2 linked regions of the Homo sapiens genome follow. The protein of the gene in region 2 purifies or fractionates together with the protein of the main gene of each other region. This does not show direct contact. Each region holds a gene or a part of one and is shown on either strand. Other genes may lie near its edges.

Region 1 (4,919 bases), on a different chromosome or scaffold from region 2:
TCCCCACACAAAACTGACCTCCCAGCATAGAGGAAATCTAAGATGATATGTGAGAAAAAGTTCTGAAAACTCTCTCATTTGGTCCCCACAACAAACCTGTGAGAGAGGCAGGGCAGGGATGATTATTCCCGTTTTACAGATGACAAAACAGACTCAAAGAGATTCAATGATTTAACCAAGGTCCCACTGCCGGTTAGTGGAAGAGAGTGGGTTCCTCCCATGTCTCCAAACTGCCCCCAACACACTTACATTCCAGTTGTAGAGGTAAAACACAAACATACATGAAGAAATAATGCCCTGCATATAGCAGGTGCTCAATTAATGCATATTGGTGGTGGTGGTGGTGGCAATAATGGTGACTGATGATGATCATAATGAGATGGTGATACTGGTGATGATGGTAGTGATGATGATGGTACTGGTGATGATGGTAATGATGATGGTACTGGTGATGATGGTAGTGATGATGATGGTACTGATGATGATGGTAATGATGATGGTGATACTGGAGATGATGGTAATGATGATGATGGTACTGGTGATGATGGTAATGAATAGTACTGGTGATGATGATAGTGATGATGATGGTACTGATGATGGTGATACTGGAGATGATGGTAATGATGATGATGGTACTGGTGATGATGGTAATGATGGTACTGGTGATGATGGTAGTGATGATGGTAATGATGACGATACTGGTGATGATGGTAATGATGATGGTACTGGTGATGATGGTACTGATAATGTTGGTAGTGACAATGATGATGGTGATAATGATCATGATGATGGGAGAACACAAGGCACAGACAGTGTGTACTCAATCACTGGCAGGGCTGATGAATGCTAAGGGAGCTCACCTGAGTCCTCTCCATACCAGTCAGCCTGGACATCCATCATGGAACTCATGGCTACTCCTGCACCTTCTGGTCTTCCTTCCAAACTCCTAGAAAAGTGATGGTCTGCATCATCCTTGCTCGGGGCAGCGCTGTTGCGCAAGAGCGCCTCCAGGAACTGCTTCACGTGGTAGTTGCTGTAAGCCAAGTCAACCGCCTGGCCGCTTGGCAAGGCCTCCTCCACGTGGGCCAGGTTCAGCGGGGCAGCATACTGCTGCAGCTGTTCACCAACGTCCACCTCCACTTCATCAGCATCAAATTCCACCTTGGGCTCTATCCGTTTGGGTGGAGTAGAGAGGTTGCTGTCAGCCGAGCCACCGCCAAGGCTGTCTCTCACCACCAGTTCCAAGGGGTGGCAGTCTCCGCAGTCACCGCAAGGGGACTCTCTCAGGCACTCCACGCTCTTTTCTCCCTCGGCTGGAGAGGAGACCAAGCTCTTGGTACCACAGGAGGTCCCCTCCCGGCCTGAACTGGGGCTTTCACTGTCAACCTGATGAGCCGCCGCTGCTGCCGCCGCTGCAGCCGCCGCCGCTGCCGCCGCCACTGCTGCAGCCACAGCAGCCTCCTTCTCCATCTTTCGGCAAATGTCGAGGGATGACCTAATGTATGTCTTGCAGAAGTTCACCACGTCATTCATCTGCAGGTAGCTGGCAGCCGACATCACTTCAATCACATTCTCCCCACACAAATCCAACTTCCCAGAATAGAGGAAATCTAAGATGATGGAGAAGGCATCAGAGGTGACAATGTCCAAGGAGGCGGTGCTATGCCGCCCGCTGTCCTGGATATAGTGAATGAGCAGGGCTCGGAAGTAGCCGCTGTTAGCAAACAAAATGTTCCTGTGGGCCTTGAAGATCCGCCCTTCCACAATGATGCTGCAGTCACAGAAAAAGTCCCTCTTTCTCTGTTCATTCAGCTCCCCCAAAAGCTTGGCATAATAGGATTGCATCTCCATTGCTCCGCCAGCTGCTGCTGCTCCAGAGCAAACCTGTATCTCTGCCAAGATTTTTCTTAAGTTAATTCACAAATCCCAACCTTTACAAACAAGATTTCTTTTTTTTTTTTTTTTTTTTTTTTTTTGAGTCAGCGTCTTGCTCTGTTGCCCAGGCTGGAGTGAAGTGGCGCAATCTCGGCTCACTGCAACCTCCGCCTCCTGGGTTCACGCCATCCTCCTGCCTCAGCCTCCCGAGTAGCTGGGACTACAGGTGCCTGCCACCACGCCCGGCAAATTTTTTGTATATTTAGTAGAGGCGGGGTTTCACCGTGTTAGCCAGGATGGTCTGGATCTTCTGACCTCGTGATCCGCCCGCCTCGGCCTCCCAAAGCGCTGGGATTACAGGCGTGAGCCACCACGCCCGGCCAATAAGATTTCTTTTAAAAATTTTAAACAACTTTTCCAAAACCAGTGGTGCAATAGTGTCTTTAGGATATGGGCTTCCCAGCACTTTGGGAGGACAAGGCAGGCAGATTACTTGAAATCAGGAGTTTGAGACCAGCCTGCCCAACATGGTGAAACCCCTTCTCTGCTAAAAATACAAAACTTAGCCGGGCCTGTAATCCCAGCTACTAGGGAAGCTGAGGTGGGAGAATCGCTTGAACCCAGGAGATGTAAGCTGCGTGAAACAAGATTGTGCCACTGCACTCCAACCTGGGTGACAGAGCAAGATTCTGTCTCAAAATAATAATAATAATATGGTCTGCTTTGGATCTAATAAAAATAAGAGGTTATCCAACTGGGTTAATTTATGGAAAAAAATAACTATAGCTAATTGCATGTGAGCACAGTGCTTACTGTTTTACATGAATTCTTTCAATGAATTTTTATAAAAACCTTGTAAGTAAATATTAATATTGTCTCCCTTGTTCTGATAAGGAAATTGAGGGTAGGAGATGACCCAGTTGTAACAGATCTGGGACTCAAAATCAGGTCTATTGGCCTCCAGAGCCAATGCTCTAATGTACTACATTCTACTTTCTTCAAGGCTCAAACTATAGAAAATATCCACATCTAAGAATTATACTTGAGGCCAGGCACGGTGGCTCACACCTGTAATCCTAGCACTTTGGGAGGCTGAGGCGGGCAGATCAGCTGAGGTCTGGAGTTTGAGACCGGCCTGGCCAACATGGCAAAACCCCATCTCTACTAAAACTACCATCTCTACTAAAAATTAGCCAGGCGTGGTGGCGGGTACCTGAGTCCCAGCTACTCAGGAGGCTGAGGAAGGAGAATTGCTTGAACCCAGGAGGCGGAGGTTGCAGTGAGCTGAGACTGCGCCACTACACTCCAGCCTGGGCGACAGAGTGAGATTCTGTCTCAAAAAAAAAAAAAAAAATTATACTTGAGTGTTTAGTGTATCAATCTGAAACTGGTTTTCTTTTTTAGAGGAAGGGTCTTGGGTCTGTCGCCCAAGCCAGAGTGCAAATGGTGTGATCATAGCTCACTACACCTTCAAACTCCTGGGCTCAAGCAACCCTCCTGCTTCAGCCTCCCAAGACCTAGGACTACAGGTGCATACCACTGCGCCTGGCCAATTAAAAAAAAATTTTTTTTTGTAGAGATGGCAGTCTTGGTATGTTTCCTAGGCTGGTCTCAAGCTCTTTGCCTCAAGCGATCCTCCTGCCTCCACCCCTCAAAGTCCTGAGATTACAAGCATAAGCCACCACACCCAGCCTCCAGTGTCCCAATTCAAAACTTTGAGACTGGTCTTTTTTTTTTTTTGAGACAGATTCTCCCTCTCTCGCCCAGGCTGGAGTGCAATGGCGCGATCTCGGCTCACTGCAACCTCCGCCTTCCATATTCAAGCGATTCTCCTGCCTCAGCCTCCCAAGTAGCTGGGATTACAGGTGTATGCCACCACACCCAGCTAATTTTTTGTATTTTAGTAGAGATGGGGTTTCACTGTGTTACCCAGGCTGGTCACGAACAAGACTGGTCTCCCTTTATCATCATTATACTGAAGTATTTGGTGGATTCTTGGGCTAGCCAGCATGCATTCCCCATTCTTTTGGTTCTAGTGCCTTTTTTCGGCTTTGATGGAAGCATCCTTCCCCCATTCTTGGCCAACATGCTTTGCATAAAGCTGGTGCCATCCTCAAGCACCAGGTGTGTAAGCTATAATGTAGGCTAATAAAATTAAGGCATCCCACCCTGTGACCACAGTGATTGGCTCGGAGATGGCCATGTAGTTTTCAGAGCCAATGAAAAGCAATGAAACATTTGCTGGAATTTCAAAAAAGAGCACTCTTTGCTCTGTGGGATGCAGGATGTGAGGGATGTTGCTGCCATACCACCAGGGAAGTCAGCCTAACAAAGATGACAGCCCAGCTCAGGCTGATGGAGCCTGGGGACAACATTGGAGCCCCAACTCAAGCAGTGCCAGAAGCCAATTAAGTTCCTTTTTGGTTTAGCTGGTCTGAGTTGGGTTTTCTTTTTTAAATATTATTATTATTATTTTTTGAGATGGGGGATGGGGTCTCACTCTGTCACCCAGGCTGCAGTGCAGTGGTGTGATCTCGGCCCACTCTGACCTCCGCCTCCCTGGCTAAAGTAATCATCCTACCTCAGCCTCCCGAGTAGCTGGGACTACAGGTACCCACCCCCACGCCAGGCTAATTTTTTTTGTACTTTTGGTAGAGACAGGGTTTTGCCATGTTGCCCAGGCTGGTCTCGAACTCCTGGCCTCAAGTGATCTGCCCCCCTCAGCCTCCTAAAGTGCTGGGGTTACAGGTGTGAGACACCACACCTGGCCTCTGAGTTGGGTTTTCTATTTCATGCAACTGGGAGACTCCTAACTGACTGATTCCACTACCCTTGGTTAACTCCTGTTTATTATTTATGTCCTGGCCCTTCTCTGTCAATGAACTACAAGCCCTTTGAAAGCATGAGCCATGTCTTATTCAATTTTATATCCCTTACAGTATCTGGCAGAGTGCTTTGGACAAAATAGATTTGTTAAGCAAAAAAGGAATATTCATTTCTTAACTGCTTAGTAGATAAACTATAAACCAAGTTTAAAATCCACT
Region 2 (4,919 bases):
AAAGAGTACATACAATAGCAAAGACGCATGGTATGACAATAAATATGTGGAAATAAAAATTTTGATGTTACTAAAACATAGAGGGTAGAAAGAATGGGAGAGAGGTATGGATGTAGATATAGATGAGACATAAAAGCCTTTACATGTAAGAAGCCTGGCTTTGATCTGCTAGTGGTGTTCATACCATGTTCAGAAAAACTCTAGAAAAAGGGGACAAAGGTAGTAGAGGCTGAGTCAATAGTGCTTTCTAGTTTAAGTGAGCCAGAGACGCTCTGCTTTCATGTTTTACTTATAGGACTTCTAGATAAAACTTCAGATGAAGAAAAGTTTGAGCTGGTAAGAGAAGCCTGCCTGAAAATCTAGTTTTTCAGGGGCAGGAGGTAGCAAAGGTGCTCTGCGTTGAAGGTTTTAAATGAGTTAACAGTAGAGTTTGCATTTCAGATATGTGTAACTCCACTGTGAAAGATATTGTTAATATAAAAAGGGGCTTAAAGAGTCATCTAATCAATATTTTTGGTTTGTTTTTACTATTTTTACAAAATAGAACAGGTTTTTCTCTTAAAACTAAATTCTCTTTCCAATTAGAAATATATGAAAAACAAACACATACTGTAGGTCTGTATTTTAAATCAGTATTCACAGTAAAGCAATCTCTACTTAAAAAATTAAATGATGAGTAAGAAAAATATTGGTCTAATGTAACTATAGCAAAATGAGCATAATAAATATATATCATTCCTAAGATCCAGTATGGATAGAACATGATATCAGAAAGAGAACAAGTTTTAGACACACACACAAACACATAGATACTTTTTAGGTAGCCTACCCTTCTAGCCACTCAGTTTTCAGACTTCTGAAGTTAATAAATATGAGTATCTTCGGTTCAACCAGAACTCACATTGGTAACAGAAGCTTAATGAATCTATTTAAGTAATCCTTCTTCTTTTGTAACTTTAAAATTATTTCCTTCCACCTATCTTCAATTATTTGTTATGTATTTCTACATACAAGAAAGCTTTTGGATTTATGGCCCAGATTACTGTTTCTCTTTGCCACTTTTGTTACCTAACACTGAGTTACACTATGCGTATCACTGAAAGAAACTAAAATAGGCATCATTAAACAACATAAAGGTTTGACCCATAACTGTATTTATTGATTCATCATAGATTCAACAACATCAGTCATGAAACAAAATATACTTTTTCAGTTCAAAAATTTTCCAACAAAAAAAGACTAACAGTGATTAGTAAAAAGCCTATACTGTATTGGTCTTCTCTCGCCAAAGGAAAAACAAACAACTTACAGAATCATCTTCCTCCTCATCGTCTTCATCTGCATGGTGGAAGAAATGTCGATAATTTCCAGGATTTATTTCTGTATCTTCTGGTCCAACGAAGAATCTGGGGGCTTCACTCATTTTTATTTTATTTGATGTAGATATAATTGAAATGATTTATATTAAAACTGCCTCTAAGTAAATAGTATCAGAAGAAAGCATTCTCCATATATTAGCTGACGCACAGGTCTGTGACAGCTTGTTTCTGCTTATACAATCACTTGATATTATGATGACTGTTGGCAAATACTCTTTTGTTCTTAGATATCATTGCTTCATTGTTGATATCAAAGTTGTTGTTGCAATTCAAAATACAAAGACAGTGAAGTTACTGCTTTCTTGAGTTGATACAGCAATCTTCTTACCTAAAATGCAATGAAAAAACTAATTTTGGAGAGTGCACTCCAAAAACATTCATGTAAAAAATAATTTTTAATGACACTTGTAAAATCAGCCCAATAACTTGATGTATATTGTCAAAATGAAAATACATTTTCTCCCATAAGAAAATTACTTATAATAAAAGCAAAAAAATTAAGAAACTAAAACTGATCTTCAGTAATATACATCTTAGCAATTTGACAAACATATGAATTAACAAAAAGACTACACATTAAATTCCTCATCCCAAAATAGCTAAACTAATTAAGAGAAAATTACTCAAATTATAACAAAATTATATTAAAGCTAAATCTCTTAGCACATAGTTATGAAATATCTGAATGGAATGGAAAAGAACAGACAAATGGAATGCAGCTTTAAAAGCCACTGACAAATATTAATCTGAAATTACATTAAGTCAATTTGTAAAAGTTGTCTGTAAACAGTTTTTTTAGGGAACATAACAATTCTATATTCTGGTCTCATACATAAATGAACAAAAAAAGATTAGAGTCAGAACAAGATTTCATTTAACAGCAGCTCTTAAACATGTAGAAGTCAAAAACTCTTTAACAAATCTAATAAAATCTATGGATCTCCTCCCCAGAAAAAAAAAGTACATGTGCACTAAATTCTGCAAGAATTTTATGTGATTCACTGACATTCAAACTCTTCCACATAACCAGGCGTCCATGAGTATCAGTTAAAGAACTATCATAGCTGGACTCATTGGCTCACACCTGTAATCCCAGCTACTTGGGAGGCTAAGGTGGGAGGATGGCTTGAGCCAAATAGTTTGAGGCTGCAGGGAGCTATGACTGTGCCTCTACACTCCAGCTTGAATAACAGAGAAAGACTCTGTCTCAAATAAATAAATAAATAAATAAATAAATAAATAAATAAGAACTATAAGAGCAGTAGCATCTCAAAATATTCCTTACCATAGTTGTTTACATGTACTTGCTTCCTGGTCATATTAAAATTAATTATATACCAAGATGAAACTACATAACAAATGCTTCATTTGATTACTGGTAGTACAATAAATTACTTGATCAAATATTCTTAAAAGTCAAACAATATGCTAGGTAGAATTAAAAGCATAACTCCAAAAGTTCTATTCCTAAAGATCTAATTCCAGTATAACTTGGTGACTCCCCAGTAGACATTAAAATCAATTTGCCCAGTCAGCCTTCACTTTAACCATCTTTAAAATACAGCGTTACATTTAAAATAATTTGTAATTTAAAAATAAAAGCAGAAATAATTTACTTTATAAATCAATGCCTTTTGTTCTATTCCTCTGTACTGTTTAACATGTAAAAATGTTTACTGAAAAAAAAAACAACAACAACAGAAAGTTTCCAGTGGCTGTAAAACTTCATGTTGGTGGATAAGTTGATCTCAGTTCTGTTTCCTATCAAATGGCAAATATCTCTTGGTTTCTTTCAATTTTTTTACTCTTTCCATCTAAAAACAGCTCAAATATTTCGATAATGGAAGGGGAATGTTCTGGAGTCAGGTACATCTGTTTTAATCTGTCAGTGCTTAACTAGTGACTTGTGCTAGTTGCTATTAGTCTATAAAAAAGGGAGTATAGTAACACCCTGTAACCCTGTAAAGACTAAGTGAGATAGCATAAGTGCTTGGCGTATATTAAACACTCAATAAACCATAGTTTCCATGAACACTCCTGTAAACCAAACTCCCTACTGACTCTAACATGTAAATCTAAAAGAATGAATTGTTCATTATTTGTTGAAATGAATATAGTTATCCAACAAACACTATTTACTTATTATAGAAGGCATAGTATTAAGTGCTGGTTATATAAAGTCAAAGTAAACATGGCTCTTTTCCTTAAGGAGCTTTTAGTCTAGTAGGAAGATAGCCAAATAAATTGACATTTTCTGTTTTAGTGTGATAAACCACCAATAAAAAAGATAATAGAAACATGTAATAATGTAATAAATGTCTATCTACTTCAGAATGGCAATGATAGGAAATGCCAGGTCCAGTATGTCAATGCAATATATAGGTATGTACTTATATGTATACATACATGAATATGAGTGTGTATACACACATTTTATGACATTATTTTAAAACTGTATTGTACTTCCTTCTAGTTAAAGTGTTCTAACAAAGTGAGAACAATACTGTTTTAGAGGTAAAGCTGAAAATTAATTTTTTTTAGCCTTTTAGAGTATTCATTGGAAAAAGTCTGGAATACATACAAATAAAATTTAAAGAATCAGTTAATAAGTCCATGACACAATGGCAGAACTAATGGTTGTAGCTGTGCAGACCTATTGGGCTGTGTTTCCTACTATTCTGTGATGGTTAATACTGAGTGTCAACTTGATTGGATTGAAGGATGCAAAGTATTGATCATGGGTGTATCTGTGAGGGTGCTGCCAAAGGAGATAAACATTTGAGTCAGTGTTCCGGGAAAGGCAGACCCACCCTTAATCTGGGTGGGCACCATCTTATCAGCTGCCAGTGCAGCTAGAATATAAGGCAGACAGAAAAAAAAAAAAAAAACGTGAAAAGGCTAGATAGACTAGCTTAGCCTCCCAGCCTGCATCTTTCTCCTGTGCTGGTTGCTTCCTGCTCTTAAACATCAGACTCCCAGTTCTTCAGCTTTGGGACTCGGATTGGCTTCCATGCTCCTCAGCTTGCACATGGCCTATTGTGGGACCTTGTGATCGATCGTGTGACTTAATACTACTTAATAAACTCCCATTTGTAGCTATATCTATCCTATTAGTTCTGTCCCTCTAGAGAACCCTGACTAATACATAGTCTTTTCAATATAATTCTCCCACATTTTTGAAATACTTTACAAAATATGTGTGTAAGTAGAAATCAACTTTCGGGGAAAAAAAAGTATGTATCCAATAGATTTTTTTTTCCCAAGGGTATGAATTAATGACTGGTCTGTCCCCTTTTGTTAACTTATTCAAGTTCTGTTTAAGTCTGTAATGCTGTATGAAGTATATAGATATATGTCCCTCATTTGATTATGACCTTAGGTCTGAAACATGTCTCATTCATTCATTTGGTGAGGGACTAGGTAAATCAACAAATAAATACATGTTAGAAAGACCTCTTTAATAAGGTGACATTTAAATATAAATTTAATTTAAATGAGAAACCAACCATGGGGTTATATGGTGTGAACATTCCAGGTAAG

The links. The genes of interacting proteins can lie anywhere in the genome.
Region 1: the proteins of PPIP5K2 (region 2) and ZBTB8B fractionate together in Homo sapiens (co-fractionation; one large-scale study listed by BioGRID). This does not show direct contact.

What each region holds. Positions count from the first base shown.
Region 1 is NC_000001.11:32,467,557-32,472,475, reverse strand, and holds part of ZBTB8B (zinc finger and BTB domain-containing protein 8B), read right to left. Parts: intron 1,893-4,919; 5' UTR 1,852-1,892; coding exon 861-1,851; intron 1-860. UniProt on the Homo sapiens protein: May be involved in transcriptional regulation.
Region 2 is NC_000005.10:103,126,094-103,131,012, reverse strand, and holds part of PPIP5K2 (inositol hexakisphosphate and diphosphoinositol-pentakisphosphate kinase 2), read right to left. Parts: intron 1,708-4,919; 5' UTR 1,424-1,707; coding exon 1,310-1,423; intron 1-1,309. UniProt on the Homo sapiens protein: Bifunctional inositol kinase that acts in concert with the IP6K kinases IP6K1, IP6K2 and IP6K3 to synthesize the diphosphate group-containing inositol pyrophosphates diphosphoinositol pentakisphosphate, PP-InsP5, and bis-diphosphoinositol tetrakisphosphate, (PP)2-InsP4.